Homo sapiens: one gene and its partner. The protein of the gene in region 2 binds, or shares a complex with, the protein of the main gene of each other region. Each region holds a gene or a part of one and is shown on either strand. Other genes may lie near its edges. The genes, in order: PDLIM5 and AAK1.

Region 1 (16,011 bases), on a different chromosome or scaffold from region 2:
CCTATGTTTTTCACAGTACTCTTTTTGTATTTCTTTAACTGGTGTGTTCACAGTGTTTGTTTAAAAAATTATCAAAATTGTCTTTTAACATTTAATATAAGTGATTAAGACTGCTCTATGAAGATTGATTAAGGTGTGTCCATATCAAGTACTCGGTTTAAATTTTAAAATAAAATAAAATTACATAATTAAAATGTCTAATAGTTTGGTTCTACCTAGACCAAACTTGTAAATATTTTATTTTTTAGATTTAATTTGGATGTTTGACTGGTATTAATGGAACAACCATATATATGTCCCCATATTTTCCTTCCTAGAAGAAATTCATAGAGAAAACCAAACATTCTGTGAAGATTTAAATTTGATTTTTCTGCTTTTTCGCATACTGAAAAATAAGTTATTATTATCAAGAGCCCCCTTTCTGTAGGAAAGGCTATAAATCTTAAAAGAAATAAGGGTTTCAGCTTAAACGATTTGAGTAAATATTTTTCACAATGAGATTTAGGGATTTAGCTCCCAATCCTGAAGTGACTTTTATTATAATTAATCATTTTACCTTATTGTAGTTTACCTAATGCTGTGTGTCACTTACGCAAAACATAAAAATAGTCAAGAAAGTTTATGATCCTGAATTAGATCCTGAATCCGCTACTTGGGAGGCTGAGGCAAGAGAATCACTTGAACCCGGGAGGTGGAGGTTGCAGCAAGCTAAGATCGCACCACTGCACTCCAGCCTGGCGACAGAGCAAGACTCCGTCTCAAAAAAAAAGAGAATTCCAGAGATACAAACTTCCATAATATACTCTGTAACAGCAGCCATGTATTTTAGTTAAGTACATACTCATATAGGCAGATTGTCTGGCTTTAAAACCTGCGTCTGCCTATACTAGCTAGATGAACAACTGTGGGCAAGTTACATTAACCCTGTGTCTTCATTTTCTTATCTGAAGAAACTATAATGTAAGTATCTAGGCTGCTGTGAGGATGAAATAAGTCAATATATACGAAGGATTCAAAAGAGTATTTAGCTTTTATTAAATGTTTAATAAGAAATTGTTATAATTCAAAATTCCCATTTGTTCCACAGGTATTTGTTATATGTATATGAATTTTTATAACCAAAGTAAGTGTATATAACAACATTATGTGTATTGATATGTACTAATACTGCTACTCCTAATTTTTAGTTTATTATAAAAGTAAAATATTTTCATAGAAAATTTGGAAAGTATAAAAAGCAAATAGAAGTATAATAAAATGACAGCAAGTTTCACCACCTAGAGGGCAACTATTGATAACATTTATAGTTGCACTTTTTCCATGAATTTTAAAATGTAAGCATTAATGTGTAAAATAATATTTAACTGAAAATGGTTAGATTTTGTTATTCATACCTAGCAAAACTCCTGTTATTTTGTTCATACCTTTAAATTTTGAGAAGAAGCAGGCCTCAAACTTTGGCTAGAGTATTGTTTAGAAAACATTTTGTCATGTGGAATAATCAGATCATGAAAATATTTAGATTCCAGTTTCATATCCCATAGTTTAAAAAATTGTCTTGCTTACTTTCTTCATCTGTTAACTTTTCACAGCTGAGAGAAAGTGGCTTTGAGAATACTCCCAGAATTAATTTTATGAAATTAAATGTTGATAGGTATGTGCATATTGCACAGACTGGCAGAATTTCTTGTGATGTGTAAATTAAATATTATCAGTGGGATAGTCTAGTTTTAGTATATGTTATTGATCCACAATCATTCTTTCATAGTACTTCTTATTTTAGAAACAATTCTATGCTTTAATCAGATTTTTAATGCATTGATTCATCACTCTTAGGACTATATCCCTTACATTTTGGCTAGGAATGACATGCCTTAATGCATTCCACTATGACTATAAATGTGGGTACCTTCCAACCAAAATATTAGTTTCCTTGCTTTCCCAGAGTATATAAATGGATTTTAAAAACACTTAGTAGAGGTGCTATTTTTCGAGTGGAGAGATTTTCCTGTAAATAACGCATGTTAAGATTAGGTTTCTCCAAGGACCTTTCTAATCCAAAATGCCACTTACTTTAAGACCTCATTTGTACATTTGCCTTCTTAATAATTATGTCCTCAAAGCCCTGCTATTGATAGAAAGATCCATGGAAAAGCTTCAGAAATTCTAAATCCAGAAATGAGAAAGACTATCTAATGAATCAGCAAAGATTAGATCAGTAGTTCGGGACCAAAAACCAAACTGAGATTTAAAAGCCAATTAATGGCCAGGCGCACAGTGGCTCACGCTTGTAATCCCAGCACTTTGGGAGGCCAAGGCAGGCAGATCACGAGGTCAAGAGATCAAGACCATCCTGGCCAACGTGGCGAAACCCTGTCTCTACTAAAAATACAAAAATTAGCTGGGCTTGGTGGCACGTGTCTGTAATCCCAGCTACTTGGGAGGCTGAGGCAGGAGAATTGCTTGAACCTGGGAGGTGGAGGTTGCAGTGAGCTGAGATCGCCCCACTGCACTCCAGTCTGGTGGCAAGTGAGACTCCGTCTCAAAAAAAAAATTTTGTGATTCAGAATATTCACAGTTGGTACTAGCTCTTTTATTGGTTAGAAAGTTGATAATGCAAAAAAAAAAAAAGATATTTATTTCAAGATTTTAAATGATGGTGGGTTATACCATACCACTTTAATGAAAATGCTTCTAAAAAATAAAGTGTCTAATTTAAAAAGTCAGCAATTTAAAAAATCCAAAAAGCAAAAATTCCAATATTTTTCCAACATATGAATTTGCTTTTGACATCACTTATATCTTTGGTGCATGATAGACACTAAATAAGAGTGCATAGCATTTTAGTGATTTATGCAAAGGTGTTGATGATTAAAAGAGTCACCTATAATGTGTTAGTCAGGGTCTTGAGAGGAAATCGATGGTATACTCAAATGTGTTTAATTGAAAATAATTTAATAAAGGACTCTGTATAGTGGTATGAGCAGGGTGTCTTCTACTACTACCTTTTATAAGTAAGATCTTTCTAACTGAGCATTATCACAGTGAGCATTCTCCGTGTCCTTTTTTTTTTCACATTTTTCTTAACTCGTTAGTAGAAACATGGAAGGCATTATGATGAGTACATAAAGCTAATGATCTTTTCATTTATCTCTTTTTGGTATCCTAACACAGTGCTTCTCAACTCTTTTCACATCAAGGCAAACTTGGAAACTGGGGAAATGGATGAGGCTTCCAATTCCAGTATGCCCCACCTCCCAGGTTGAGAAGATTAATTTCTTGGCACAATCAACTAATTGGGAAATTCTGCTCCAGGTCCATTTCTTACTTTAATGTTCTTAAAATAGAGTAGTCCCCCCTTATCCATGTTTTCACTTTCTGCAGTTTCAGTTACTCATAGTCAACTGCAGTCCAAAAATATTCCATGGAAAAATTCCATTAGAAAAATTCATGTTTTAAATTGCATGCTGTTCTGCGTAGTGTGATGAAATCTCACACCGTCCTGCTCCATCCCACCCAGGACATGAATCATTCCTTTGTCCAGCATATTCATGCTGCATATACTACCCACCCTGTTAGTCACTTAGCAGCCATCTTGGTTATTAGTTCTACTGTCCCTGTATGGCAGTGCTTATGTTCAAGTAATCCTTATTTTACTTAATAGTGGCCCCAAAGCATAAAAGTAGTGATGCTGGTATTTCGGACATGCCAAAGAGAAACCATAAATCACTTCCTTTGAGTGAAAAGGTGAAAGTTCTTGACTTAATAAGGAAATAAAAAAATTGTATGCTGAAGTTACTAAGATCTATGGTAAGAATGAATCTTCTATCCATGAAATAGTGAATGAAAAAGAAATTCATGCATAGTATATGTAGGGTTAGGTATTATTCTGGTTTCAGGCATCTACGAGGGGTCTTGAAATGTACCTTCTGAATATAATGGAGTAGTTACTGTAATGTCTTCATATAACATATTTTTACAATTATTGACCCACATGTTAGTTTCCATCTCATCTCCAAAATCGCTCCTACATATTCTCTATCCTCTCAACCACTCACCGGACTCCTCAGTGAACTGACTTTATCTGAGTAAAACATCAGACTGACTGAACCTTGATCTTATCATGAGGAATATTCCTCTACTTCTGAAATCTCAAGTTTGGGACTCTCTGATACCTTTTTTCAGTGTCCATCCTATCTATCCTTCTTATTTTTACCCCTCACTAACCAACCAATTGCCTTTTTTTTTCCTTACTAGAAACTGCCAGTAAAATGCATAGTTCCTTGCTCCTCTCCATTCAGTCAATATCAGTTATGAATACCACCCACCAAACTGAGACTTGAATCCCTGAGGCTAGTTTAAACTTTGCCTTCTTCCTCAATTACACATTTTCTCAGTTACCCTAGGCTTCACGGATCTGCTCTTACAGTCTTTCTTTTCCATTATTCCTTTCCACTCTCTCCATGCCTGATTTAGTTCTGCCCTTCTCCCAGGATTCTTTAGTAAACTTTAGAATGACACTGTGCCTTCTATCTTTTCTCCCTAAATTACCAAATGTTTCTTTAGTTATTAGAATAGTTAATGCTTCTTTTCCATTCTAGATTTTAAAATTTAAATGCTCATGAGTGGTTTATTTACCTTCCAGGATTAGGACTTAAAAGATAAATTGACTCAGTAATATAGGAACTTTTAAAAGACTGGCACTTCATAGTTTATTGGGTGCAACTGTAAAAACTTGTCACAGCCATGTCATGTTGTAATTAAGTTTCTGTTATTTTTGAAGTGCTACAAGAGGTTCTGAGTCATAGATTGGATAATAAAATGTTAGAGAAAACATTTATATGCTTAGGTAAATACTGTGTTTAGAGGGACTATTCTTAAAAACTCTTCCTGCTAAGTAAGTTAATCTTTTGATCTCTTTCTCCCCCACCCCCCAACCCAGCTTTTCTTTCCCTGATTATGATAAAATGAAGCTTTTAATATGTTTTCCTTTGTGGTCAGTGCCTCATTACTTAGCCCTATAGAGTTAATGAGGCCAAGGACATTGGTTTGATTTCCCAATGGACCAGTAACTTCTGATCGTCTGTAGTCACAGGCTGTCCTTCAGACCATGGCCAACCATTTCATAAATGTTAGTGATGAGGGAAACAGACAAGGGGAGTCAGAATGGCCCCGTGGCAATTCATTATAAAACAAGTTAAGGCATATGTCCTCCTGAAGTGGCTCAGGAGTTTCATCTTCCCTCATATACAAATTACTCAGCAGTTATTTTATTTCCATAATTTGCTATGGCTTACACCTCTATGGCCCTCAGCAGTGTTAGTTTCGAAAGCATTCCATCTTCCTCAGGTCTTTGGTCTGGATGGCTTACTGAATTTACCAAGAGACAGTGTGTTGCGATGAAAGTAACATGGTTTTTGGAATCAGACCTTTTGCTCTACTACCATCACTGATTAGCTGTGGGCGTGTGCCCTAGGTTAAATGTCTTAATCTCCAAGTTTCTATTTCTTCCTCTGAAAAAAGTCTACTTTATATGGTTGTAAGAATTAAGTAGAATAATGTACATAGGGCACCAAGAACATAGTACTTGGATAATGAAAGTCAAAGTTCTCTACTTGTTTTTTATGATACACAAATAAATCTAATCAATTGGTTAGGAAAGTTTTCATATGGCTACCATTTATTTAATCCTTACTTGGTGCGAAGCATGCTGTGTAATGTTTTATATATATTATCTCTATTCCTCATGATAATCTCACAAGGTTATTTACAATGATCATTTCCTTTAAGATGAGGAAACAGATAAGTTGCTACCATCTGGAATGCATGGTTCTTAACTGAGCACAGTGCACATTAAACCGGAGACATAGCACTATCTCTAGGGAAGTAGTTTTTAAGCACTGCAGTTTAATAATTACCTGGAGGTGGGGAGGGAGTGTTTGTTAAAAAGATTCCAAGGGCTCACCTACAAGGATTCTGAGTCCAGAGGGGATCCAGGAAAATGCAATTTTAACAAGCTATCCGTGTCATTTTGATGCAATCGGTCCTTTTTAGGACACTTGGATAAATATCAGTCTATGCAAGACAACTTAATTTGGTTAATTTACTCTGTAGCCCAGGATTTAAACTGCAGTAGTAGGAGGAGGTTCAGAGACAGGCTAGCAATTATGGGGTAAAGTGGAATTTGCATAAGTAAGCAACAGTCTGCCCATTCTCAACTCTTCCTCATCACCTCAAGAAGCTTATCCTCTAGTGATAACTCCATAGGCTATCTGCAGTTGATGTCTTTAAATTAATCTTTGTTGATCCAGGATCAATTTAACTGTATCAACAGCAAACAGATGAGAAGGGGCAGAGTTGGGACTCCTAGAGGTTAACTCGAGCCATGGCCCTGTGGAACTGGCAGAAGCTGTAATTGCTTGCGACCTATTATCTATAAATGAGGATGACATTCATTTTATAAAGTTCTTGTAAGGACTACCACACTGCATAGCACATGGTAGGTATTTGCTAATGGTAGCTATTGTTATTTTTTTTTTATTTTTGGGTGAGATGTCAAACATGATAACATATATTAGACTCTCTAAACCAGCTTTCACACTAGGAAACACTTTCCCCCAAAGCCATCTTTTGAAAAATGTGGTGAAAGCTATGGACTGGTGCTGTCCAATGAAAATATAATGTGAAGCACATATGTAATTTTATTTATTTATTTTTTTAGAAACAGGGTCTTCCTTTGTCACCCAGGCTGGAGTGCAAAGACAAGATCATAGTTCACTGCAGCCTCGAACTTCTGGGCTCAGCAATACAAATAGCTGGGACCTGGGACTACAGGCACACTACACGACGCCCAGCTAATTTTTTGGATTTTTTTAGAGATGGGTCTTGCTATGTTGCCTAGGTTAACCTCAAACTCCTGCCCTCAAGCCATCTTCTCACCTCAGCCTCCCAAGTGCTAGGATTATAGGTGTCAGCCACTGCACCCTGCTCACGTAAGTAATTTTAAATTATCTAGTGGCCACATTTTTTTTAAAAAGTGAAATTAATTTTAATCAAATATTATTATTATTACTCTTTTTTTTTTGGTGCGGAGTCTTGCTCTGTCGCCCAGGCTGGAGGGCAGTGGCATGGTCTCGGCTCACTGCAACCTCTACCTCCCGGGTTCAAGTGATTCTCCTGCCTCAGCCTCCCAAGTAGCTGGGATAACAGGCATGCGCCACCACACCCGGCTAATTTTTGTATTTTTAGTAGAGACGGGGTTTCGCCATGTTGGCCAGGCTGATCTTGAACTACTGACCTCAGGTGACCCACCCGCTTCAGCCTCCCAAAGTGCTGGGATTATAGGCGTGAGCCGTCGCGCCCGGCCATAATCATGTATCATTTAACAAAACATAAAATATGATGATTTCAGCATATAATCAATATAAAAATTATTGAGGCATTTTACATTATTTTTTCATACCAAGTCGTCGAAATCCAGTGTGCATTTTACACTTCCAACGCATTTCAATTTGGGCATTATATTTTCAACTTTAGTCCTTAAATGTAGTGCTTAAAAGAAATGTTAACGACCTGGCGCGGTGGCTCATGCCCGTAATCCCAGCACTTTGCGGGGCCGAGGCGGGTTGGTCACCTGAGGTCAGGAGTTCGAGATCAGGCTGGCCAACATGGTGAAACCCCATCTCTACTAAAAATACAAAAAATTAGCCGGGCGTGGTGGCGCACGCCTGTAATCCCAGCTACTCAGGAGGCTGAGGCAGGGGAATCGCTTGAACCCGGGAGGTGGAGGTTGCAGTGAGCCGAGATTGCACCACTGATCCCAGCCTGGGAGACAGAGCAAGAATCCGTCTCAAAGAAAAAAAAAGTAAAGAAATGTTATCCTGCTTCAGTTTTAAATGTTAAATTATTTAAAATTACGTAAAACAAAAAATTCATGGTCTCAGTTACAGTAGCCACATTTCAACTGTTCGATAGCCACATGTGGCCAGTGGCTACCGTTAGGGAAAGAGCAGCTTTGGATCTTCGCCTTTGGAATTTTGCTTGCACTTCTGGGGGCCGGGGAGCTCACGGACCTCATGAAGTTCATCCTTGCTTTATATGCTCCTTGGTTAAGAATTGTCCTTTTCACGTTTTATAAGCCAATTCACAGTGTAACAGTCTAGTTACTTTCCGTATGTTCAGTGAACATTATTCACGTTTTCTTATGAATAAATTCCTCGGGCGTATCAAGCAACCCTATAGAAGGCTGGAAAGTGGACTATTGATTTGGATTTAGAAAAATAAACTGAAGATACAGTGGTTGAATCACTTTTGGCCGCTTTTATGTATCACTGTCTTCTGGTGTGATGGACAGGGTTAACTTCTGTTAGGGTTACTGGTTTTCACCTTCCTGACAGGTAAACTTCTGGGTCTGCACTTTTCAGAGCATGTAAAGCTCTTTCAAAAAAAAAAACGCAGGCAGTAACCGCTGAACTTGCATAGATAGAGATTTATCCAAAGTACCCTTCTATTTTTAGGCAGAGCAACTGCTTGCCAATTTAAATTTCTGGAGAGAAAAATGCACCCACTACAAAACGGACGAGCGGAGGGTTAGACCTTTGCCAGGTAGCGCTCAAAATCCGCTAAGACTACTCCCACCGAAACTCGGTAGCGCAGTTGTCTTTCCGCAGCTGCTTCAGCCAGCCCCAGCAAGCCCGAGCGCCCGGCGCCGCCGCCACCTTCCCCGCCCCTGCGCGGCGCGGCTGGGACTGGCCCAGAGGCGTGGCCGGGAGCGGAGGGGCGTGTCCTGGGTCGGGGGTGGGGCGAGGGAGAGCCAGGAGGCGGAAGTTCCCGCGGGCGGTGGGGACGGCGCCCTCACCGCGAGTCACTTGTCAGCCCTTGTCTGAGGCGGAGGCAGCCCCGCGCCGCGCCGGACCCGAGGTGAGTGGCGGCCGGCCGGCGATGCGCCTCTCGGATCTCCGGTGGGAGAAGGGAAAGAACCGGCCGCTGTGCGCCGAACGCGAGAAGGGAAGCCCGGTTGGGGACGAGGAGGGGGCGCTCCTCGGGCAGGGATGGCTCCTCAGGTGCTTTCTGGGCGCGGAGCGGCGGAGGTGGGAGAGCAGCTTGGGAAAAGGAGCGCCCGGAAAAGGGCAGCGCTGGAGTCCGCATGAGGCCAGAGGGCGAGCCCTGGGGTCCCCGCAGCCCGGGCCGACCGGGACCAGCGTAGCGGAGACGGGGACGCGGGAGGGCGCCCGGAGGTGGCGAGGGCCGGCAGGGACGGGCACTGCCGCTCCCACCCACCCGGCTGCCGGCGTCGCCCGGCACCACCGTGGTGTGGTGTCTGAGTGCCCAGTCCTGCGCCAGTCTCTTGGAGGGTAGGAAGCGGGACTCAAAGGAAAAGGCGCGTTAGTTTTTCTTTGCTCCCAGGCTACTGAGAAGCATTTATTTCTCCCCCAGATATTTACAGTTTTGTGTAACCTGTTTGGGGAAAACTTCTGCGCGTCCAGAAATAAAGCTCGTTTAAGAAACACATTTGTCATGAACACGAGATTTGTTAACACTTGAGTACTTGTTGGGGCTTTTGTAAGACTGTGCCTTCGGTGCGTTTTACAATAAGTGGAAAAAGGAAGGGCGTGTGGACAGGGCAGAGCTTGGAAGGAAAATTCGTGGCGGCGCTGGGCAGGGCAGATTTAGGGTGTGATCGCCAGATCCTATCCCAAGTCCGCCTTCCTGACGGGGAGGACGTCTGAACCCGCCTGCCACGGAAACGGCCCGTTCGGTAGCCTTATTTGGCCAACAAGGCTAGGCGCGAATCCCTCCTGGAAAACTGTCCTGTCGGCTGCTTTCATCCTGTGCCTGTGGCTTTAGTTCTTCAGCTCTACCTACATTCTCTCTCCATTGCGGGGAAAGAGAATCTCAAGATATTTCTCTTTAATTTCAGGCCTTTTTTTTTGTCACTCTGTGTAGTTCATCTTGAGTTCTCCTTTCTCCCCTCTCACCCACTAATGAAGCTGAGATACAAGTGTGGGAAATACCAAGCTTCCTTCCCTAGTACTAGAGCAAAGACATTGTTTAGACTTTCCCTAAAAGAAAATCCATAACTCTACAGAAATTCCAACCTTTTCGACGTGTTTGAAAGAGTATGCTGCTATTTCCTGCCTGCTTGGTATTTGAGGAAGGGCTTGGGCACTAATAACCAGATGGAGGAGTCTTGGAAAGGCCAATAAAAATATTGCCATTGCTTGGGGCAGAGACTGTTTTAAGGCAGATGAATTCCAAATGAAGCTAGCAGAAGAAGCATCTAGAAATGAACGGACAGTGACTAGAAATGAAATGACACTGGTTTTGTAGTGTGGCTGTGACCTTGCCAGTGCTAGGAATTTTAATAACAAATGAGAGAAGTTAGGAAGGGAATCCCCAAGTAAAGGGAAGTTGCAAGTACATGGGTTGATAATCTAAATGAAATACATTTTCTTGTAGGGAAGAATGGGGCCAGAGGAAGTTGAGCCCAACTTTCATATTATTCCCCAGACACAAGTTAAAGATTAATAAAGGAGGGCAGGCTGCCTGTGAAATATCAGTTGGCTTTACACGATTCTGATTTGTATCGTGTCAATATCAGGACAGTCCTTCTATTAGTTTTCTGAAAATCTCCTCCTTTTATAGCGGGAAAGCAATTGAATTATGTGTGGCTCGTTATTAGCTTCCCACTAGTAGTTTTTCACCTATATATACAGTTTGACTTCCGGCTTGGCCTTTGGATCTTTTTTAGTGCTCTGTGCCTATTACTTCATTACTGAAGTAATGTGTTATTGCCTTGTAGTTCAGTATACTACCACGCCAGTAGAAAAGCTGTTTCGGTTTCTGATACAATTTTCTGTAATTTTTATTTTCCCTGATATAATTTTTCTTTAAAAACCAGGCTTATTTGAATGTTTTGCCCCATTTTCCCTTTATGAGAAGAAGGAATGTTTGCTTTAAATATACCTATGGCTCAAATATCTATATCTGCAACTATGAATTTGGGGTGATGGGCTAGAAATTTTGAATGGGTTAAAACATATTTTAAGACAGGTAATATTAGGTGGTGATTTGGTTGAATAGCTTACATTTTCCAAGGAAGTATGTTTTTAATATAAAATTACATATCTGTTATGTTTTTAATATTTTTTAAAGAGAGAGAATTATTGTTTCTTAGTATTCCATTAAAACAAAAGAAAACTTCATTCCTCTGTCTCCTGCCGTTATAACAACCAATAGGAAACTCGAAGTTTTTTTTTTTTTTTTTGCTTTTTAAAAATTATATGAAAGTACTACTAGGAGAGTCATCACACGCACACTTAACAGCAGAACAGACAAAAGAAAGCACCGAAGCACTGGTTCTTTTCTAAACTGCCAATTCCATTTGAATGCATTAACCCAGCACTTTTGCTGTATTTAGTCATAATCTTATTCACTGAGTGGCAAATGCTTACTCTCTGCCTGGTGAGGTGTGTGTATAAAACAAAAAGCAGGTTGTGACTAACATCACTGTACTAGAGTATTGCCTATCGTTGACTATCTGAAGGAAAAGTAGATATCACTTTAAGTGTGGAAAATACCATGTCCCCATAGGAGGAAATACAAGTTGTAGTTCATGATTGGAGAGAATAGTTTTGTGCATTGAAAAACAGCTTCTCATTGTAAAGAATTTAGTATTTGGAAAGCATGAATGGGAGCCTACTGATTTGCAGTCTCTTTCACATGTTAGAGTAACTTAGAATTTAAGTAAGTGCAGTTGAAAGACTCTTGTCAATTGCAGACAAAAGAATACATGAAGTGGAGGGAAGGAGAAAATTATTCTGAATTCAACCTGAAATAAAATCTTGCTACATTAGTGAAGTATTGTAAAGTACTTTGAGTTAAACTTTGCATGCAAGAAGCCACAAAATTGGATTGAAGCAAGTTGTGAAACATACTAAGTGTCTAGAAATGTATTCTGATATGGAATTTTTAGACCATGGAAATTGCCATGAGTGTAGAAAATTTATATTAGCTCACAGATTGCTTTTCTTAAACTGAAATTAATGAAGAACTTAATTAAGACTTATCTTCTATATCCTCTCACCCCCCTCAAACAAAATACTAAACATAATTTATGTTCTAGGGTTTCAAGTAAACATTTTTGCTAATCATCTGATTTTCTTTCACAGCATATTTCATTTTCTGTCATTGGACTTTGAGCCATTAGAACCATGAGCAACTACAGTGTGTCACTGGTTGGCCCAGCTCCTTGGGGTTTCCGGCTGCAGGGCGGTAAGGATTTCAACATGCCTCTGACAATCTCTAGTGTAAGTAAACTTTACAAATTTTATTATAGATGTTCATTCAGTGCTTAGTCCTCGGGCTGAGTTGTTTAATTCTCTGTTGACCTGTACTCTACTTATTATCATTGCTCCTGGGATTTGATCTTGGCAAATTTGATTATCTATAATAAAGGATGAGGGGAGTAGATTTAGCAAGGATAACTGACTTCAATTTAACTTCTTTTCGTTTTCCCCCATGTTATCAATAATAAAATGGAAAAAGCATTTAACTAGGAACAGACTGTACATTTTTGAACTGTCCCTAATTTGGGGAATTCTCTGAATCTTCGTTCTTTCATATATAATTTTCAAAGGTTGTGCTATGGGATTTTAATAATCTCTTTCAGTTCCAAAAGCTGTTTGTTAAAAACTGTTGATCAAAATTGAATAAAATGATTGTTTCGGAATTATTTCCTCAGCTCACTTTCTGGTGGAGGTGATAGCCAACAGTAAGATGGCCAAAAGCTACTTACCCTTGAAGAGGAAATGAAGGGCTTGGAGCTCCAACTAGATAGCCTATGAATAATTGAGATTTGGCTTTTTACCTCATTATGGATTTAGTTTGAATGTATTCTGTGTATATATTTTAAGGATATGTTTTCATGATGATGATGATAGCACTGATGAGAGGAGTAATTAAAGCTTCTATTTATTGAGACTTGACTATATGTCAGGTACTGTTTCACTTTCATCACCAGTAGGTAATTATTACTATTATATAAGTTTCTAAAAGGTTTGTTTTTGCATATTCAAATAAATATGAATTTCCATCTTCTTTTACTCAAATGGTGGCATATTATACACACAGTTTTTTTTGAGACAGAGTTTTGTTCTTGTTGCCCAGGCTGGAGTGCAGTGGCGCAATCTCGGCTCACCACAACCTCCATCTCCCGAGTTCAAGCGATTCTCCTGCCTCAGCCTCCCGAGTAGCTGGGATTACAGGCATGTGCCACCACGCCTGGCTAATTTTGTATTTTTAGTAGAGACCAAGTTTCCCTATGTTGGTCAGGCTGGTCTTGAACTCCCGACCTCAGGTGATCTGCCCACCTCGGCCTCCCAAAGTGCTAAGATTACAGGCGTGAGCCACCGTGCCTGGCCCACACTGTTTTATACTTTGCTTTTTTTTGCAACAATTTACCCTGAGATCATTCTCTATTAATATATAAGGAGGTATGTGTGTTTTTTTAAAACAATTGTATAATTTTATTTTATAAGGAAAGTGACATTTAACCAATCCCCTACTGAAGAGTATTTGTGGCATTTCCATATTACTGTTACAGTGGTACAGTGAATACCAAATATAAGTACATACATATATATGTGAATATATGTATCTACGTCATTTTGAAAGGTTGTGCCAATTTACACTTTTGTGCAACGCATGAAAATACTATTTTTGTGCCAGTCTTACCAACAAACTTGGATATTTATCAAGTGCTGTGAATGCATCATCTCATTTAATTATCATACCAACATGCAAAATAGTGATATTATTCCCATTGTATATAACTGTGCTGTGCGCTCACATGACTGTATGGAAGAGCTGGCTTTCCAACAGTTATGCTGTGCTGCCTCTTTAATAATTCACTTTACCTTAAATTTAGTTAGTTGTTTCTTTAATCAGATATTTAGAAGATTGTCATTTTGGTTAATAATATATGTGTATGTATAAATATATATACACACACATACTCTGCATCTTGTATGTGTATCCAACTTCATTTTGAAAGATTAAAAATAAGTTTGTAACGCCTAAATATCCTTATTAAAATACTGCAAATCCCATTTTACTAACGGAGTCTCCTTTGTTTCTTGGCTGTGGATTTTTTTAAAGTTATCTTTAATTTATCATCAATTTCTGCCTTGATTTCAGTTAATTAGATTTTATAAGGAAGTATATATATGTAATCCAGCCTGCAAGTTTTAACACCTTTCATGGTTAGATGAAATTTTAAATGTAAAGCATCCATGTGAAAATGTGTCATGTGATTTATTCCTGTTTGAGTGAGTTGGTATTTTATTTCTTCTACTGATGATCTATTATGGGAACAGGAGCAATCTTTGAGTATTATTGGTTTTTACGTTTTGTTAGCATTTTATATTTTAAATATTCTACTTTAATTATCTAAAGAAAGTTATTAGTTTAAATGCTTACTTTTTTGCTGAAAAAAAGTTCAGAAACAAATTGACACCTAAATGAGCCAAACTTAATTATCACTTTGTTGTGTGGTAATAGAAATGCAAATAGAGTATGTTTGCGAATTTTGTGGTACCGTGTCTTTAAAAAAGTTTCATGTGCTTCAGTTTCCTGGCAGACAGTTTGAGGTACTAGCTCCATGTTGTGATGCTGATACAACAGAACACTGTGTACATACATATGTGCCCTCCCCTGGCACAGAAGAAATGCTTTCCTTGTGTAGACAGAGTGCTAATTAAAGGATTTTGAACATACTGATTAAAAGAGACTATGGTAACAAAGCTGCTGAGTTATTTCTGTTCTCTTACAAAAGTCTCTGCCATCTACTGTGACCTTTTTGGGCCTTGTGCAGTGGGGCATGCAATTCATTCTGGACTGGAGAGGATTGGAAGGGGAGGGGAAGGAGAGAAGGGAATGTTGGCTCAATCGGGCTGCTAGGCTCTTGGCCTTTCATTGTAGTTATTTTTAACCCCTTGTGTGGTTTAAATATGCCTAGTAACATTGCCTAATAAAGGTTTGCGTTTAATAACTAATTTATATTGTGGTAAGATTGTTAATGTTATAAATTTTTAACTTACTCTCATCTTAATTAGTTCTTTGGTTATACTTTTTCTGCCTTAATTATGTAAAATTACTGGGATATTACTGGTCATCAGGTTCTTTAATTAATAGTATCAAGAAACAATTAAAACCTGAAAGCATGCTTAAAACATGTAATTTAATGATTCACTTACTTTAATAATGCACATGAAATTCTTAGCAAGGTCTGGCAGTCTCTCAATTATCTTTTATAATAATATTATAAACTTTAAAAAGAAAACTATTTAGAGACTTGAAACATTAAATATTTAACCCCCGTAGTTGTAGGGAACATACAGTTATGGTTTTGTTTTGTTTTTTTAAACTTATTGTCCACTGAAATTAAGAAAGGAAAAAAAATCAGAAGTTTGTACTTAGCTGGGAATCTGCATCTTTAGAGTTCAAAACTGTGCAATTTTTCCTCTGATTAGGTATTATTATGTTGAACTCCAAAGGGTCATTTACATTCCTTTATAACACTGGAGCTCTGGTGTATCGAATTGTGTTATGAGATAAGCCACTAGCAGGGACTTGAACATTCCATTTTCTTTAGATTTTGTTGTATCAGCATGTGAATATGCTGAATACAACTTGTATCCTAAAGCATACAAGCTATAACATTTTCACGTTGGACTCAAATTTCTTCATCATCTGTATTGTATGAATTTTGTATACTGTTTTGTTGGTGGATTTCTAACATAAGATTGCCAGTTCCTGCTAGCTTTTTAAAAAGATCCTCAGGTTGCTGTAGCTGGATGATCACATGTCATTTAATTTCCGATCCTTAAAATGGAGTGCGGGCTACCTAAGTTTGCAGGCTGTCTTTTTATGATCCTGTGTTTATGGAATTGCCCTGAAGCCATGGAATGTGAGGATGGGTTTCATTGTAGCAGTGTGGGTTTGTTGGTTTTT
Region 2 (16,150 bases):
TAACAGATTGTATTTAGTTGGTCTATATTGTTTTCCATTATCTTTTCATATATTTTTTTCACATTTTTTACTATGAATGTATTCATTTTATAATGATGAGTATATCTGTTTTTTTGGAGGTATGGTCTTGCTCTGTTTCCCAGGCTGGAGTGAAGTGGTGCAGTTATAGCTCACTGCAGCCTCCAGTTCCTGGGCTCAAGTGATCATCCCAGCTGAGTCTCTCAAGTAGCTAGGACTATAAGCATGTGCCACCATGCCTGGCTAATTTTTATTGGTAGAAATGGGGGTCTCGTTATTTTGCCCAGGCTGGTCTCAAACTCCCGGCCTCAAGCCATCCTCCCACCTCAGCCTCCCAAATCATCGGAATTACACACATTAGCCTATGCGGCTGCTGGCTGATATATCTTTTAAGTCCCCTTTTATCCATAGGTTCCCTCTCCTCTTTTTTTTTTTTTTTTTGCTTTTTGTCATTTAATTTTTCGGAGAAACTGGATTATTTGTCCCTTGGAATTTTTGGCATTCTGGGTTTAGCTGATTGCATGCTATGGTGTCATTTGATGTGTCTGACCGTCTTCCGTGTACACTGGTAATTTCTCGAGGCTTACTCAGTATTTGATTCAGTTTGACAATTCTTTGTTCTTCCTGTTGCATCATGTCAGGAGGTCTGTAATGTCTCTCTGGCCTCTATTTCACTGATATTAAGATCAGGGAGCGTGTACTTTCAGATTTCCCTGAAGACTGCGTTTCCCAAAAATATTTTTAAAAAAAGGAAGAAAAAAAGATCAATCGGTGTATTGAGGTGTTGTCTGTCTGATCCATTTGTTTAATGTTCCCCATTAGCTTAGCAGGTATCACTGATCATTTGCCAAGTTCCTTAATTCATCAGGGATGGCACAGTGATATTCTAACATTCCCTCTTCATTTGAGGGCTGGACGTTTTCCATGAAGAAATTTTTTCATCAGCTCTTTAGCTACCCTGAGGTACTGTTTGTACAGAAAAGGCAGGAAAAACACTTGATTCTTTCCTTTTGTTTACTGGTTTTCAGAGTAATAAATTTGTTCCCTCTTGTCATCCAAAGGTGAACAGTGACGTTTTTGTTTTGTTTAGTTTAGTTAGTATCATTAGGAATTCTTAGATTTTAACATATTTGATATCTTTGAATACATTGCTTTTTTTGTTTTGTTTTTACTAGAGGTGGGGCCTTGCTGTGTTGCCCAGGCTGGAGTGCAGTGGCTATTCACAAGCAGGATCCCACTACTAATCAGCCCTGGAGTTTTGACCTGCTCCGTTTCTAATCTGCGCTGGTTCAACCCTCCTTAGGCTACTGGTCCCCTGCTCCCGGGAGGTCCTCATACTGATGCTGACCTTAGTGCAGACACCCAACTAGCATAGCATACTACAACCCTTGACTTCCTGGGCTCAAGCGATCCTCCCGCCTCAGCCTTCCGAGTAGCTGGGACTACAGGTGCACACCACCATGCCTGGCATATTGCAGTTTTAAAAAATGTATTTATTTTAAAGCTCAGATTGCCCCAACTTTGGCCAGTGGAAGTCTCTTCAAATTGGCTCCTAAATCCTTTGAATGTAACTCCAGTGGTCTTTAATGATTTCCTTGCTATCTAGGATCATGCTGCCCTCTAGGATCATGCTGCCCTCAACTTGAAATCATCCATTTTTCTTAGGAGCTCTGTTTCTTTTTAGTGCAAATAATGTTTAGAAACCACAGTTTTGATGCTAGAAATACCATTTGCCTAATGGATTGCTTGTTGTTTCTAGGCCTTCTCAGTGGACAATTAGAAAATATATTTTGTTTTGTTTTGTTGGAGAATAGGCATTATGAATTCGGATTTATATTCCTAATTTGGATTTGTAATTACTGGATTTCTGTTTAACTTCTTGGATTTTGTTGTTTTTTTTTTTTTCTGGAAATCTTGATTCTTAACAGCATTAACATAGATAATTAATTGTTCTATCGTTTTAAGATAGCAATAACCATATGATTACTGAAAACAGTTTAAGATTTCCTTGCCCATTTTACCCTTAGAATGTTTAGCACATTATTTTCTGGCGCGTTCAGCTACCAATTTGATACACCGGTTTATATGCATTGTTTTGCTTTTGATTTTTAGTTATTGCTTTTTAAATTTTAGTTTAATTCTGTTTTGTGGATATGTGAAACATTTACATAGTTTCAGAGTTAAATCTGCAAAAGTCCATCCCCACCAACCCATATATAGTGGTATTGCTCATTCTTATTTACAACTTGAGAGTATTCTATTAGATATTTCCTTCAGGATATATCTATCATAAATATTTAATCAGCCAGTCTCCTGTTGATAGACATTTGGGTTGTTTCCAGTATTTTGCTGTTATAAGTAGGCAGCTATTTTTTTTTTTTGACATCTTCTAATTTGTTAACCCTTTAACTTTGCCCCAGTAGACAAACAGTATCCTCCCAATTGACTCTAATAACTACGTAAAGTATACGGGATGTTCAAAGATACAGTGTTGACCTTAGTTCATCAGCAGGCCCTTATTTTGAGCTCTGTTTGTGTATGTAGCACATAGCCCCTAACAGTGGGGATTAGAGAGACATATAAGAAGTGTGGGCCAGATACAGTGGCTCATGCTTGTAATCTCAGCATCTTCAGAGGCCGAAGCGGGAGGATTGCTTGAGCCCAGGAGGTCGAGACAGCCTGGGCAACATTGTGAGACTGTGTCTCTACAAAAAATAAGAAAAAAAATTAGCCAGGCATGGTAGTGTGCACCTGTGATACCAGGTACTTAGGAGGCTGAGGTGGAATGATCACTTGAGCCCAGGAGGTCAAGGGTGCAGTGAGCCGAGATTGCTTGCACCACTACATCCCAGCCTGGGCAACACAGCAAGACACTATCTCAAACAAACAAACAAAAGGAAGCGTCATAGAGCACACTGGCTATTTTGAATGTTTAAGGAAGTTTAATAAAAATGGAGCTCTTGGGAAATAATTTTTAGTAAGACTTGAGATGAGTCTTAATAGTTGAGTTAACATTTAGGTTATTCTTTTCAGTGTCATCATTGCTTCATCCTGTTCAGGTAGGGAAGCATTTTAATCTTGGCTACTTCAAATCCCTTTATAAGAAGGATTACCTCTATGATTAGGAGATCGTTTATTAGCTCCTGCTATACTCTAGCTTATGGAGTCACATGATGTTTAGTCAGATAGCTTCCCTTAGGCAAGGCCCAGAAACCCACTTGGAAGGCCAGTCTGTAGTGCAGGAGGCAGCCTGGTGCAATGGATGGAGCCTAGCAGTGTAAGGGACTGCTGCTGTGTTGTATTTTAATTCCCTGAGGTCTCTATCATGAGATTTTAGGCCTAGCCTCAAGACTTTTCTACTTGCCCTTGCCTTTGGCTTTAGCACTGGTCTTCATTGTTTTTGAGACATTTGTCTTTTGTGACTATTATTCTGGGACAGGCCCTTATTCATCTCCTCATTTCTTGCTCAGTTTCAGGCAGTACATCCAGCAACCCAGAAACCAGCAATTGCTCAGTTCCCTGTGGTGTCCCAAGGAGGCTCTCAACAGCAGCTAATGCAGAATTTCTACCAGCAGCAGCAGCAGCAGCAACAACAACAGCAACAGCAACAGCTGGCCACAGCCCTGCATCAACAACAGCTGATGACTCAGCAGGCTGCCTTGCAGCAAAAGCCCACTATGGCAGCAGGACAGCAGCCCCAGCCACAGCCAGCTGCAGCCCCACAGCCAGCCCCTGCCCAGGAGCCAGCGGTAAGAATCAACCAGAGCTCAGAGCACAAAAGCAGCAGAGGAATGTGCAGCGAGAGCTAGGGGAAGGGTGGGAAAGATGGCAGCAGCTGATGAGGGTCCAGGTTGCTTTCCCACCTGGGTGGTTCAATTATTTGATCTTTCCTTGATATATCCAAGAATAGTATGGATGTTCTATAGAAGATAGAGGTTTTTTTAAAAAAGGATTCTAGGCTACTGATGAAGAGCCTTCTTAATTTTTATCACTCTGAAACTAGGCTAGCAGGAAGATCTGTTCATCATCTCTGTCTGTGTCACTTTGAACAGTCAAGGACCTAGGCAGGATTAAAGCTAATCCCTTTCTCTTCTTCAAGGGGCAGTTTGATCCATTGTGCCCTTTCCAGGCCCTGGGTCCTCCATGTTGTGTTTATTCTTTGTCTTGGATGACATTACTAATCACATTATTTAAGTTTACCATGCAGCTCCCGTCAAGGGCCTGCTTACCTGAGACCATTCACCCTGGTGTAATCCCCCTGGGTACCAGAGCATCTGAGTATCCAGTCATTTGAGCCATCTTATCAATTTAGAAATTGGGCATGTCCACTTTTAGATATTGGCTGAGTATGGCATCAGAACCCCTCGTCTGATTGTCCTCTACAGTTTCAACACACACGGGCACATCATGCTTTGGCCTGTGATAAGTGGATTTTTTTCTGTACTCTTATTTTTCTGAGTGATAGTGATAGAAAATGTTATGGTGTTAGAAAAAGACATTTTGCATACCCAGCTGGTAGAGTGTCACAGCTACCCTGTTACTCCCAGGGAAGTCTAACTACTAGAGGAACAAAGGAAAAGTAAGAAGCCATCTTTCTGCTGGGCACAGTGGCCTCACGCCTGTAATCCCAGCACTTTGGGAGGCCGAGGCGGGCGGATCACAAGGTCAGGAGATCGAGACCATCCTGGCTAACGTGGTGAAACCACGTCTCTACTAAAAATACAAAAAAAAAATTAGCCGGGCGTGGTGGCAGGCACCTATAGTCCCAGCTACTCGGGAGGCTGAGGCAGGAGAATGGCGTGAACCCGGGAGGTGGAGCTTGCAGTGAGTGGAGATCATGCCACTGCACTCCAGCCTGGGCCACAGAGCAAGACTCCATCTCAAAAAAAAAAAAGAAACCATCTTTCTGAGGATTGATTTCTAATAGAGTTTTGTCTCCCATCTTAAACCAGAAAACCTACATCGCTTCGAAAGGAAGCAGTGCCGTAGATTGTCTTCTTTAAGTCTTAGCTAAGTGTGTGTTTAGTGTCTTTACACCTTCGTTTCTAAAACAACTCAGACTTCCTGCAGGCATGGAGTAGACAGTGAGTCTCTGTATTTTTAACAAGAGGTAAAGTTCCTCTTCTTCATGGAAAAAGAGTTTTTAAAAAAATTAGTACATGAGATAGCTAGAAGGGACCTTAATTATTCAGTTCAGCCTCCTCATTTTACAGAATTGGAAACTGAGGCATAGACTAGAAAGTGGTTGCCCAAGACATACGAACTGATGGTAGTGGAGCTGGGGCAAGAATCAAAGAATCCTGATCTGTGTTTAAGTTTAATTATAACAAATGCTCATCCAGGGTGATAAAATGATCAACTACTACTGACTACACTTCTTATGAGGTTCCCCTATGCTTCTCCTACACAAAAGTGTCTACTCCCTTGGGAATGAATTATGAACTTTCTCCGTGTTCTTTGGATGAAAAAACACTTTGAACACTTTGCTCTGGGATAGTTGGTTTTGGGGACAGAGAGGAAACAGAAATAGACCATGCTTTGGCCAGGAGCCATAGAGCTTCTCAGCTTTGACCCATCCTTGTCTCCGCTGACTCTTGGCAGGGCTAATCTAAAGAAGCAAGTGAATGAAGGTAAAGCGTACCCTGTAGCCATCTTAAAGCAATAATTAGCAAAGGGGAAATGGCCATTTGCCCTAGATGTTTATTGCAGTCTTATTAATAATAGCCCAGAGAATTTGGAAGCAACCTAAATTGCTGAGAAACCCAACTGTGCAGCCATTAAAAAGCACGGTTATAAAGTCTGTACAACAGTATGAAAAGAAATGCTCATGAGGTAATGTTAAAGGAATTGTGAAATTACGGAAAAACTATACACTTGAAAAGAGACTTAAAGTATAAGGTACCAAAAAGATAAGGATTGTATCTAGTTGTATTAGAGTGATGGAATAGAAGTCTGTTTTCTATATTCTTACATTTCTTGATGTGATTATACTCCTTTTATAATTACATTTTTAAAAAATCGTCAGCAAAATAGACATCTGAGTCTTTTTATTCCTTCTCCCGTGGTCTCTCTGTCCCTCCTCCCACTTTCCAATCCTGTTTGGATGGGATGGCATCATGGGGCAGAAAAGAGTCCTGAGCCACAGTCAGGAGACATGGGCTCTGCTTCCAGTTAACCCTGTGACCTTGAATGAGCATTTGGCCTCAGTGCAGGAGTTGAAATCTGCATTTTCTAAGGTCCCTTTAAACTCTCACATTCTTTGATTCTAAGTGGAAGTATAACTGTCTGCCAGGGTTGCTGGGAGGCGTAGCTGAACAGATACAAACCACTTAGTGTCTGTAGATTGCTGTTATAGGGCAAGGTGTCCTGAAGGAGGCATCTAATCTTCAGTGTGCTGCATCTGGAGAACAGAAGAGAAAAATGTTCTCCAAGTGGTAAGAAAACTATCCAACTCCTTTCCTTTATGCCATCAACCTCGAGACAAAACAACTTCGGATGTAAAATGCCCTGGAGATTTCACCATCCCTTCCCTCCAGTCCTTCATCTCAGAATAGAGTTGTCACTGGACTCTTCAAAATAAAGGGACCCAACAGTTTAGTATTCTTTTCAGATTAATGAATGTCTCATGAAATAAGCCCATTCAGTGTATCCTCAAAGCCCTCTGACCCCTATGTGTGGTAGTATTCAGCCAGCTGTTACAGGCACAACTCTGGACCCCCAGAGGAAGTTGTGGAGCTGGAGCTGTGGTTGTCTTCACAGAGCACTCTGCCTCTCCTTCAGCAGGGCAGCTTTGTTACCCTTCTAACCTCTGATTGATATTAGAACCTTATATTGTAACATTCAGCCTGTTGGTTAAGTGGATGGAATACTGACATGTGTACATAGTCTACCTTAATAAATTTTCCAAGTCCTGAGGACAAGATGAGGGCAGTCAATATCCCAAGCTAGAAGCATCCTGACCCAGGTAGCTGGATAGTCTAGTTTCCTTAAACTGTCTCAGGGCCTGCCTTTGTAGACACTGAGACTGCAGCTGAACTGAGTTGCAGCATGGAGCAGCAACTCTAATCTGAGAAGAGGGACTGGAGGGAAGGGATGGTGAAATACCTGGGGCATTTTATATCCAAAGTTATTTTATCTCTAGGTTGATAGTGTAAAGGAAAGGGGTTGGGTGGCTTTCTTAACATTTTTTGTTCATTTTCCTTGATATAGGTGACTTATGCTTAAGGACCACTCATGTGGTCACAAGGATATTCTCACCGGTATGTTGTTCTGTGGTGGCAGTTTGGCCTGTTTTGAAAATGGCCCACATCACAAGAGTCCTTGTATTATTAGCTCAGTCATCATCAGGACCTTTTTTTTCTTTCTTCTTCTTATATTCTCTGCCAGTTCTTCAATATTATGTCCAAACTGAAGATTGAAACAAGTTAATCCCACTAAACTAATGCTACATATTTTCTTAGGAGTTGCCACAGAAATAGGATCTTATATACCCATCCCATCAGTGAAATAAAGAGCCTTAACAACAAAACAAAAAAGGGAATGCTTATACATTCTTGATGGGAGTATAAGTTAGTTCAACCATTGTGGAAAGCAGTGTGGCGATTCTTCACAGAGCTAAAAAGAGAACTACTATTCAACCCAGCAATCCCATTACTGGGTGTATACTCAAAGGAATATAAATTGTTCTGCCATAAAGACACATGCATGTGTATGTTCATTGCAGCACTATTCATAACAGCAAAGACATGGGATCAACCTAAATGCCCATCAATGGGAGATTGGATAAAGAAAATGTGGTACATATATACCATGGAATACTATGCAGCCATAAAAAAGAAGGAGGATGGAGGCTTTGCAAGAACATGGTTGGAGCTGGAGGCCATTATCCTTAGCAAACTATTGGAGGAATAGAAAACCAAATAGCACATGCACTCACTTACAAATGAGAGCTACATGATGAGAACTCATGGACGCAAAGAGGGAAACAACAGACGCTGGGGCCTCCTTGAAGGTGGAGGGTGGGAGGAGGGAGAGGATCAGAAAAAATAACTCTTGTGTACTAGGCTTAGTACCTTGGTGACAAAATAATCTGTACAACAAACCCCCGTGACACGAGTTTGCCTGTTTACCTGTATAACAAACCTGCACATGTACCCCCGAACCTAAAATAAAAGTTCAAAACAAACGAGCAGTAACATTTATTAATCACAGTAGAATTTTCTCTGACTCACTCCCAACCTGTGGTCTCGCTATGGCAGAGAGTGAGGGATCTCTTAGCAGAAATCATTCAGCTTAAATGTGTTTCGCTGGAGATACGTCTTCATTGGCCTTTACCTGTAGTGATAGGATCTATTGCTTGCCCTTTGAAAGCATTCTGAATGAGTTTGTATGTGACTCCAGAAATAGAAAGTGGTCCTTTATGATAAATTCTAGATCTTTACAGCTGGAATAGCTTCTGCATTCTTATGCTTTGAGCTGAATATGGTTAACATATGGTTACCCTATATATTATCGCTGATAAAGATTGAAATTTATGTGTATCAGGCAAATACCATGTTGTTATCAGTCTCAAAGTTGCAGCACAGATTGTCAAAGCCTGGATTTTTCTTTCTGGGCATTATTGATAAACTTAGCCATGTGAGTTTCATGTTAGTGCTTATGTGGCATTTTTTGTTGTTGTTGTTACACTTATCTGTTTGTTTTTCCTTTAACTTTTTTTTTTAATTTAATGAAACACTTTCCGTCTCTCTTCCTAGCAGATTCAAGCCCCAGTAAGACAACAGCCAAAGGTTCAGACAACCCCACCTCCTGCCGTCCAGGGGCAGAAAGTTGGATCTCTCACTCCACCCTCATCCCCCAAAACCCAACGTGCTGGGCACAGGCGTATTCTCAGTGACGTAACCCACAGTGCAGTCTTTGGGGTCCCTGCCAGCAAATCAACCCAGCTGCTCCAGGCAGCTGCAGCTGAGGCCAGTCTCAATAAGTCCAAGTATGTGGTGCTTCCTCTTTGTTGTTCTTACCTCTGTGGGCAAAGTCTGCCTGCGGCTGTTAGTGTGTGATTCTTTGCATAAGTGTGTAGATGTGTGTAATGCAAATACAGTGGTGTGTACTTGTGTTTGTTTATTTTTCTGGTTTGTTTATTTTTCTGGCTCATTTCATCTTGCATGTACTTGTGTTTAATGAGCAGCTGTGAATTTGTCTTTAGTGCATGGGCCATACTAATCTTAAGAAATCTTTTCCTACTTGGCCCACTGTTCTCATTCTCTCACCTGTTCCATGCTCTACAGTGTGTTTTCTGAACTCTCGATCTGACCGAGTCTCTCCACGCTGAAAAGTCTTTCACTGGCTCCTCATGATAGCTGAGCACACTGCTTAACATAGCAGGGCCTGTTGTGTTTCACAGGCAGACTTGCCATTCTTCACCTTCCCGAGCCCTTTGTTCCTCCTGTGCCCTCTCCTGGGACTGCTATGCTCCTCCTTGCCCACCTAGGGAATGTTCATTTATTCATCAAGATCCATGTCAGAGGTTGACTTTTCCTTGACCCTTCCTCTGATATGATGTATAATTTTTGTCTGAACATTTTTTTGAGCTTATATGACATTGTGTTGTCGTTAATTATTTGTATGTCTGACCGAACTGGTTTGTGAGTTCTCCAAGACAATGACCATGTCTTAGTCAACCTTTGGAAATCCAGTGACTGGTTCTGTGCCTGACAAGTAGATTTTGATGAGTGTTGAGTAAATGCAGTTTCAGACCCTTAACTGTCTTAGAACCATACACTCTAAAGTTAAAATCTTTCAATGAAGTTAAGAGAGACTTTATAAGAAAATTATATAATGATACTTAGATGCACAAAGTAGTGGTAACTGTCTTTATTTCTTTTTAATTGTGATGGTGGCCCTTAACTCTATGCATGCTGGATCCTGAGAGATGAGAGGCAGCCTAAATAGACCTCTTTCCTGCCCTTCCAGAGGTCAGTTATTGTGGATGTTATGGTGGTCACCACAAGATACACAAGTCTAAGAACAGGTTGCTTTTAGATCCTGAACTGAAACAACTTGCAGATAAGACTGAAAACTTAAGCAAGAGATTAAGGAAGTAGTGGGAGGTAGTGAGTCATGAAGGAAAGGAGACATTCATTTCACAAAGTGGAATGGGTATCTGCGGAAATTCTTCAGGTGCTGTGGAAAGCCCTTTTAGGAAAACACTGTGGGCTGGATGCAGTGGCTCACGCCTGTAATCCTAGCACTTTGGGAGGCCAAGGCAGGTGGATCACCTGAGGTCAGGAGTTCAAGACCAGCCTGGCCAACATGTTGAAACCTTGTCTCTACTAAAAATACAAAAATTAGCCAGGCGTGGTGGCATGCGCCTGTAATCCCAGCTACTCGGGAGGCTGAGGCAGGAGAATCGCTTGAACCTGGGAGACGGAGGTTGCAGTGAGTCGAGATCACGCCATTGTGCTCCAACGTGGGTGAAAGAGCAAAACTCTGACTCAAAAAAAAAAAAAAAAATACTGTGGTGGAAAATGATGGTTTGACCCAGAAAATAATTTGATTCTGAAACAGAGAAAATAAGTTGACCCTTTTTGTTTTGTTCAACTTTTATATCTTTTTGTTTCGTGGGGGTGGGAACCTACCTAGGTCTGCAACCACCACTCCATCAGGCTCTCCTCGGACCTCTCAACAAAACGTTTATAATCCTTCAGAAGGGTCTACGTGGAATCCCTTTGATGACGATAATTTCTCCAAACTCACAGCTGAAGAACTGCTAAACAAGGACTTTGCCAAGCTTGGGGAAGGTGAGTAAGCTGTGTCTTTTTTTGTGCTTCTTGATTATAGATTCTCTGTGCTAAGAAATAACCAGGAATGAGAAAGAATCGTAACTCTAGAAGGGTATGCATGTGGAAACGTAGGCTTGGGCCTTTGCATAAGGCTTGATTTCAAAGTATGCATACAAGTCAGTTTTTATTTTTACCATGGGCCCTGAAGTCCTCATCTTCAGGAAATCCTGATCTATTGTGGGTGGTAGCAAGGAGAGTGTGATGCTTAGGGAAGAAACTTGTAGAAAAGGTTTGTGACATAGTCCAGGATAACAGCATCAGGCATGGTCCCTCCTTGGAGGAGTGTGATGGTTCTCTCATCCTAGGTTGGTTTACTGTCCCAGAAAGTTGCCACTGCTTGTCCATGAATGTGCCTTCACATGGACACTGAATCTTTCTTTCACTATAGTCAGAGTTCTGTATTACTGTACTACACAGAAAGATGATTAAATAAATAGAAGATATACTTCTGCCTGAAGAACAGTCTACTTTGGAAGGCAGGACACACACACACACACACACACACACACAGGCACATGCACACACTTTGGAACAAATTCTAATATGCATAATTCTAATAATTCTAATAATGTTAGAGAGTACTCTAATAAAAAGTACTCTCAATGTAGATAAGGGCGCAGGATAAAGGAATGATGAGAACCAATTGAGTGGTATGAACTATTGGCCAAACATTTTGGCTTTAACTATCATTTTATAGAAATCTTTTAAAACTCCAATCCAGGTGTGGTGGCTCACGCCCGTAACCCAGTACTTTGGGAGGCTGAGGCAAGAGAATCACTTGAGCCCAGGAGTTCAAGACCAGCCTGGGCAACATGCCAAGATCCTATCTCTACAAAAAATTTTAAAAATTAGCTGGGCATCCTGGCACACATCTGTAGTCCCAGCTACTTGGGAGGCTGAGGTGGAAGGATCACTTGAGCCCAAGAGGTCGAGGCTGCAGTGGGCTATGAATTTACCACTGCACTCTAGCCTGGGTGACAGAGTGAGACCCTGTCTGTTGAAAAAAATTCCTATTACTTTCTTGCTTTTTTAAACAGAAGATAGGGCATAGTACTTAACTTTTTTGGCAACTTTGTTTCATTGTTATGTATACCAGTTGTTATTCTGGACTGTAAATAGAAATACCTCTATAGACTACTGAAAATTGTAGTAGTTTTGTACCCAAATAACTAGCCCCTGAGTTTTAATAATTTCCTCTCCCTTTTCTTACTGTTCAGCTGTCAGCTTTCACATTAAGCTACTGTCATTATGCTTGTCCCTCATAACGTCTCATTATTGCCATCTCCACCACTCCCTCTTCTCATTTGCTCTCCTAAACTGCTTCCAACATGGAAAGCAGATCATCAAACTCATTAGAGCTGTATAAAGTGAATAGATTACAAGTGAGGGCGGGAGGCATTAAATGTGCAGTTCCGTAGTGTTAAGTACATTCACACTGTTGTGCAACCAACCAATCTCCAGAACGCTTTTCATTTTGCAAAACTGATGACATGCTCTCTTTTGATTCTTAACAATTTCCTTTTTTTTCTCAGCCGTTCTCTCAGTTATTGCAATGACTAGACAAGGACCTTTGAATGTGTCGCCATAATGCAGTAAAAGTAGTCAAGTCCAGAAGTCAGTTCAGAGAATGCCCCTTACCTCTGCCATGTGTGTGTGCCTCGCAAGATTCTGCTAGAATGAACTGAGTGGTGTTTTGTCTCTCCAGGCAAACATCCCGAGAAGCTTGGAGGCTCAGCTGAGAGTTTGATCCCAGGCTTTCAATCAACCCAAGGTGATGCTTTTGCTACGACCTCATTTTCTGCTGGAACTGGTTAGTATGGCAAATACCTGGAACGGGAGGTTCACTGTTGTTACCTTCACACTGTTTTTTACTCCACAGATAACTCTAGCATGCCAGTGAAATCCAAATCCTGGCAGTACCGTGTATATATATATATATGTTTTTCATGGTCTATTTAATTTAAAATTTACTTTTTTTTAATTCAAAAGCTTTCTGATCAAAAAGGGATAAAGATCTAGAACCACTTTGAATTAAAGTGGCAGGACAGTCTGGCAGTAATATGCAGGACTTGTTCTCTCTAGTCCACAGGCACGTCTTAAACAAATATTTCTAGATTTAAGAAACACCCAGTGTTCATTGCTTGTAATTTCTTAGGTTTCTGAGATTACTTGAAGAATTTTAAAAATTAAATATTCTGTTATAGCTAACACTCCTCTAAACTGTGTGTGTGTGTGTGTGTGTGGGTGTGTGTGCGCACACGCACGCACGCTGTTGGGGAGAAGGAGGGAGGTATTTTTTAATGAGACTTCTAAAAAAGGAGGGAGGTTTTTTTAAATGAGACTTTGTTAAAAGTATAGAAGCAATCATAAGAGACAAACTTTTCCCTTCTATTAATAAAAAATTATACATTTTGATTATATAAAAGTTAGTAATTTATAGAGAAGAAAGTTAAAATTCTCCATGACCTCACGACCAAGAGATAGTCTAGGGATACTATCTTGATATCTGTTAGAGGCATTTAACCTTTTGAGAGTCACAGATATCTTTGTGAATCTAATGAAAGTTATAGGTCTCCCTGACCAGAATACACATGACCACAATTTTATTTTTTGAGATGGAGTCTCGCTCTGTTGCCCAGGCTGGAGTGCAATGGCTCAATCTTGGCTCACTGCAACCGCCGCCTCCTGGGTTCAAGTGATTCTCCCGCCTCAGCCTCCAGAGTAGCTAGGATTACAGGCACCTGCCATCATGCCCAGCTAATTTTTGTATGTTTGTAGAGACGGGATGTCACCATGTTGGCCAGGCTGGTCTTGAACTCCTGATCTCAGGTGATCTGCCTGCCTTGGCCTCCAAAAGTGCTGGGATTACAGGCGTGAGCCACCATGCCCAGCCATATGACCACAATTTTGTACACTCTTTGGCCCCCTGCTTAAGACTCTGAGACTCTGATATGCATCTTTTTTTTTTTTTTTTTTTTTTTGAGATGGAGTCTCATTCTGTCGCCCAGGCTGGAGTGCAGTGGCACAGTCTCGGCTCACTGCAAACTCTGCCTCCCAGGTTCAAGCAATTCTCATGCCTCAAGCCTCTCAAGTAGCTAGGACTACCGGTGTATGCCACTATGGCCGGCTAATGTTTGTAGTTTTAGTAGAGATGGAGTTTCACCATGTTGGCCATGCTAGTCTCGAACTCCTGAGCTCAAGTGATCTGCCTGCTTCGGCCTCCCAAAGTGCTGGGATTACAGGCATGAGCTACCACACCCAACCTGATATGCATCTTTATAGTCATATTTTGAAGCCTAATTTTTTCACTTAATGAACCTGGCACATATCTCCTACATCATTAAAGAAGCTCCTAAAATATAATTTTTTTTTTTTTTTTTAGACGGAATTTCGCTCTTGTTGCCGGGGCTGGAGTGCAATGGTGCGATCTTGGCTCACTGCAACCTCCACCTTCCAGGTTCAAACGATTCTCCTGCCTCAGCCTCCCAAATAGCTGGGATCACAGGCATGTGCCACCATGCCCAGCTAATTTTGTTAAAGTATAATTTTTAAAAATTATTACAGGTGCGGTGGCTTACACCTGTAATCCCAGCACTTTGAGAGGCCGAGGTGGGCAGATCGCTTAAGGTCAAGAGTTTGAGACCAGCCTGGCCAACATGGTGAAACCTCATCTCTGCCAAAAAATACAAAAATTAGCCAGGCATGGTGGCGCACACCTGTAGCCCCAGCTACTCAGGTGGCTCAGGTGGGAGGATCCCTTGACCCCAGGAGGCAGAGGTTGCAGTGAGCTGAGGTCACAACACTGCTTTCTAGCCTGGGCAACAGCGTGAGATCCTGTCTCAAAAAAACAAAAACAAAAACAAAACTTCTAGGATACACCAGATGTATGATATATCCTAGTGTATTTAACCAATTGCATCTTTTTTAACATTAACTTTATTCCAGTATTTACTATTATAAACACTTCAGCAATGAATGTGAGCTTTTGAAAGTATTCTTTACAAGATGTAGAATTTGGCATGCTTCTAAAAGTGATCTTTTTAATTATACTGATTAGTATCTACTTTTAACCTTATCATATATTCTTTCTGCCTGCTTTCTTTAGGAATGTTAGTAGTTTTTCTAACCTCATAAATTTATTTCTGAATAGAATGTTGTCATTTAATAATATTTGATATGTAATACTCTCTTATTCTTATTATCTGGATATTTTTAAATAGAAGTTTCAATTTTTTCTTTAATCAAAAGTTACTCAGGTTATGTTTTCATTGCACTATGACCAATATGCCCTGTGCAGTCTTTGCTGTAAACTATACTGAAGGGCTGTCTGTGGCCCAGTTTGTTATTCATTTTTAAATGTCCTCTGGAAATTAGCAGTTTCCACGTCAATAAATATTAATCTACAATATGATTGTTCATGGAAGAATGGCAACATTTATTTAATATCCCCTTTTATGAATATTTACATTGTTACCAATTTTTCACCATATAAATATTCTTGAAGCTAAATTTTTGTTTATATCCTTTACAGTTTCTCTAAGATAACTTCTAAGAGACTATGTGCTAAATCAAAAGTATGTATATTTTAAGGTTTTTTATACATATTTTCAAGTTGTAGTCCAAGAAAGCTATATAAATTTTGTTTCGATTAATAGTGAATGAGAGTCATTTTCCCTGCCATTTCTCCACCCAGCCAGCACAGCCCAGGCCAAAGACTGTAGACAGAGAACCTTATTTTTATTTTATTTATTTATTTTTTGAGACAGTTCTGCTCTTGTTGCCCAGGCTGGAGTGCAATGGCACAATCTTGGCTCACCGCAACCTCTGCCTCCCAGGTTCAAGCGATTCTCCTGCCTCAGCCTCCCAAGTAGCTGAGATTACAAGCATGCACCACCACACCAGGCTAATTTTGTACTTTTAGTAGAGACAGGGTTTCTCCATGTTGGTCAGGCTGGTCTTGAACTCCTGACCTCAGGTGATCCTCCCGCCTCAGCCTCCCAAAGTGCTGGGATTACAGACGTGAGCCACCGCACCCAGCCAGAGAACCTTATTTACTGACCCATTTTTATTTCTTTGAGATTGTATTGTTTGTGTCCTTTGCCTTTTAGATTCATTTTGTAAGCATTCTTCATATGTCACATATTATCTTTTCCTAGAAAATCATCTGCAGTTTTAAAATTTTTCATTAAAGTACAACAATATATATATATATCTTTTAATATCTGTGTACATTAATTTTAATTGTATGTATTTGTGTTCCTCTTTTTCTTGGTAACTCTAGCCAGAGGTTG

The links.
Region 1: the proteins of AAK1 (region 2) and PDLIM5 are in contact, whole or in part, in a crystal structure (PDB 9F6S), measured with the Homo sapiens proteins. Residues at the interface, in NP_055726.4 of Homo sapiens: Asp956, Leu958, Ile959, Asp960, Leu961; in NP_006448.5 of Homo sapiens: Ala12, Pro13, Trp14, Gly15, Phe16, Arg17, Leu18, Phe24, Gln67, Ile70, Lys71.

What each region holds. Positions count from the first base shown.
Region 1 is NC_000004.12:94,443,077-94,459,087, forward strand, and holds the start of PDLIM5 (PDZ and LIM domain protein 5), read left to right. Parts: upstream 1-8,865; 5' UTR 8,866-8,919; intron 8,920-12,170; 5' UTR 12,171-12,212; coding exon 12,213-12,308; intron 12,309-12,742; exon of another isoform or gene 12,743-13,167; coding exon of another isoform or gene 13,168-13,482; exon of another isoform or gene 13,483-14,108; intron 14,109-16,011. UniProt on the Homo sapiens protein: May play an important role in the heart development by scaffolding PKC to the Z-disk region. May play a role in the regulation of cardiomyocyte expansion. Isoforms lacking the LIM domains may negatively modulate the scaffolding activity of isoform 1.
Region 2 is NC_000002.12:69,502,088-69,518,237, reverse strand, and holds part of AAK1 (AP2-associated protein kinase 1), read left to right. Parts: intron 1-1,191; exon of another isoform or gene 1,192-1,487; intron 1,488-3,488; coding exon 3,489-3,767; intron 3,768-8,774; coding exon of another isoform or gene 8,775-8,777; coding exon 8,778-9,007; intron 9,008-10,659; coding exon 10,660-10,817; intron 10,818-12,564; coding exon 12,565-12,669; intron 12,670-16,150.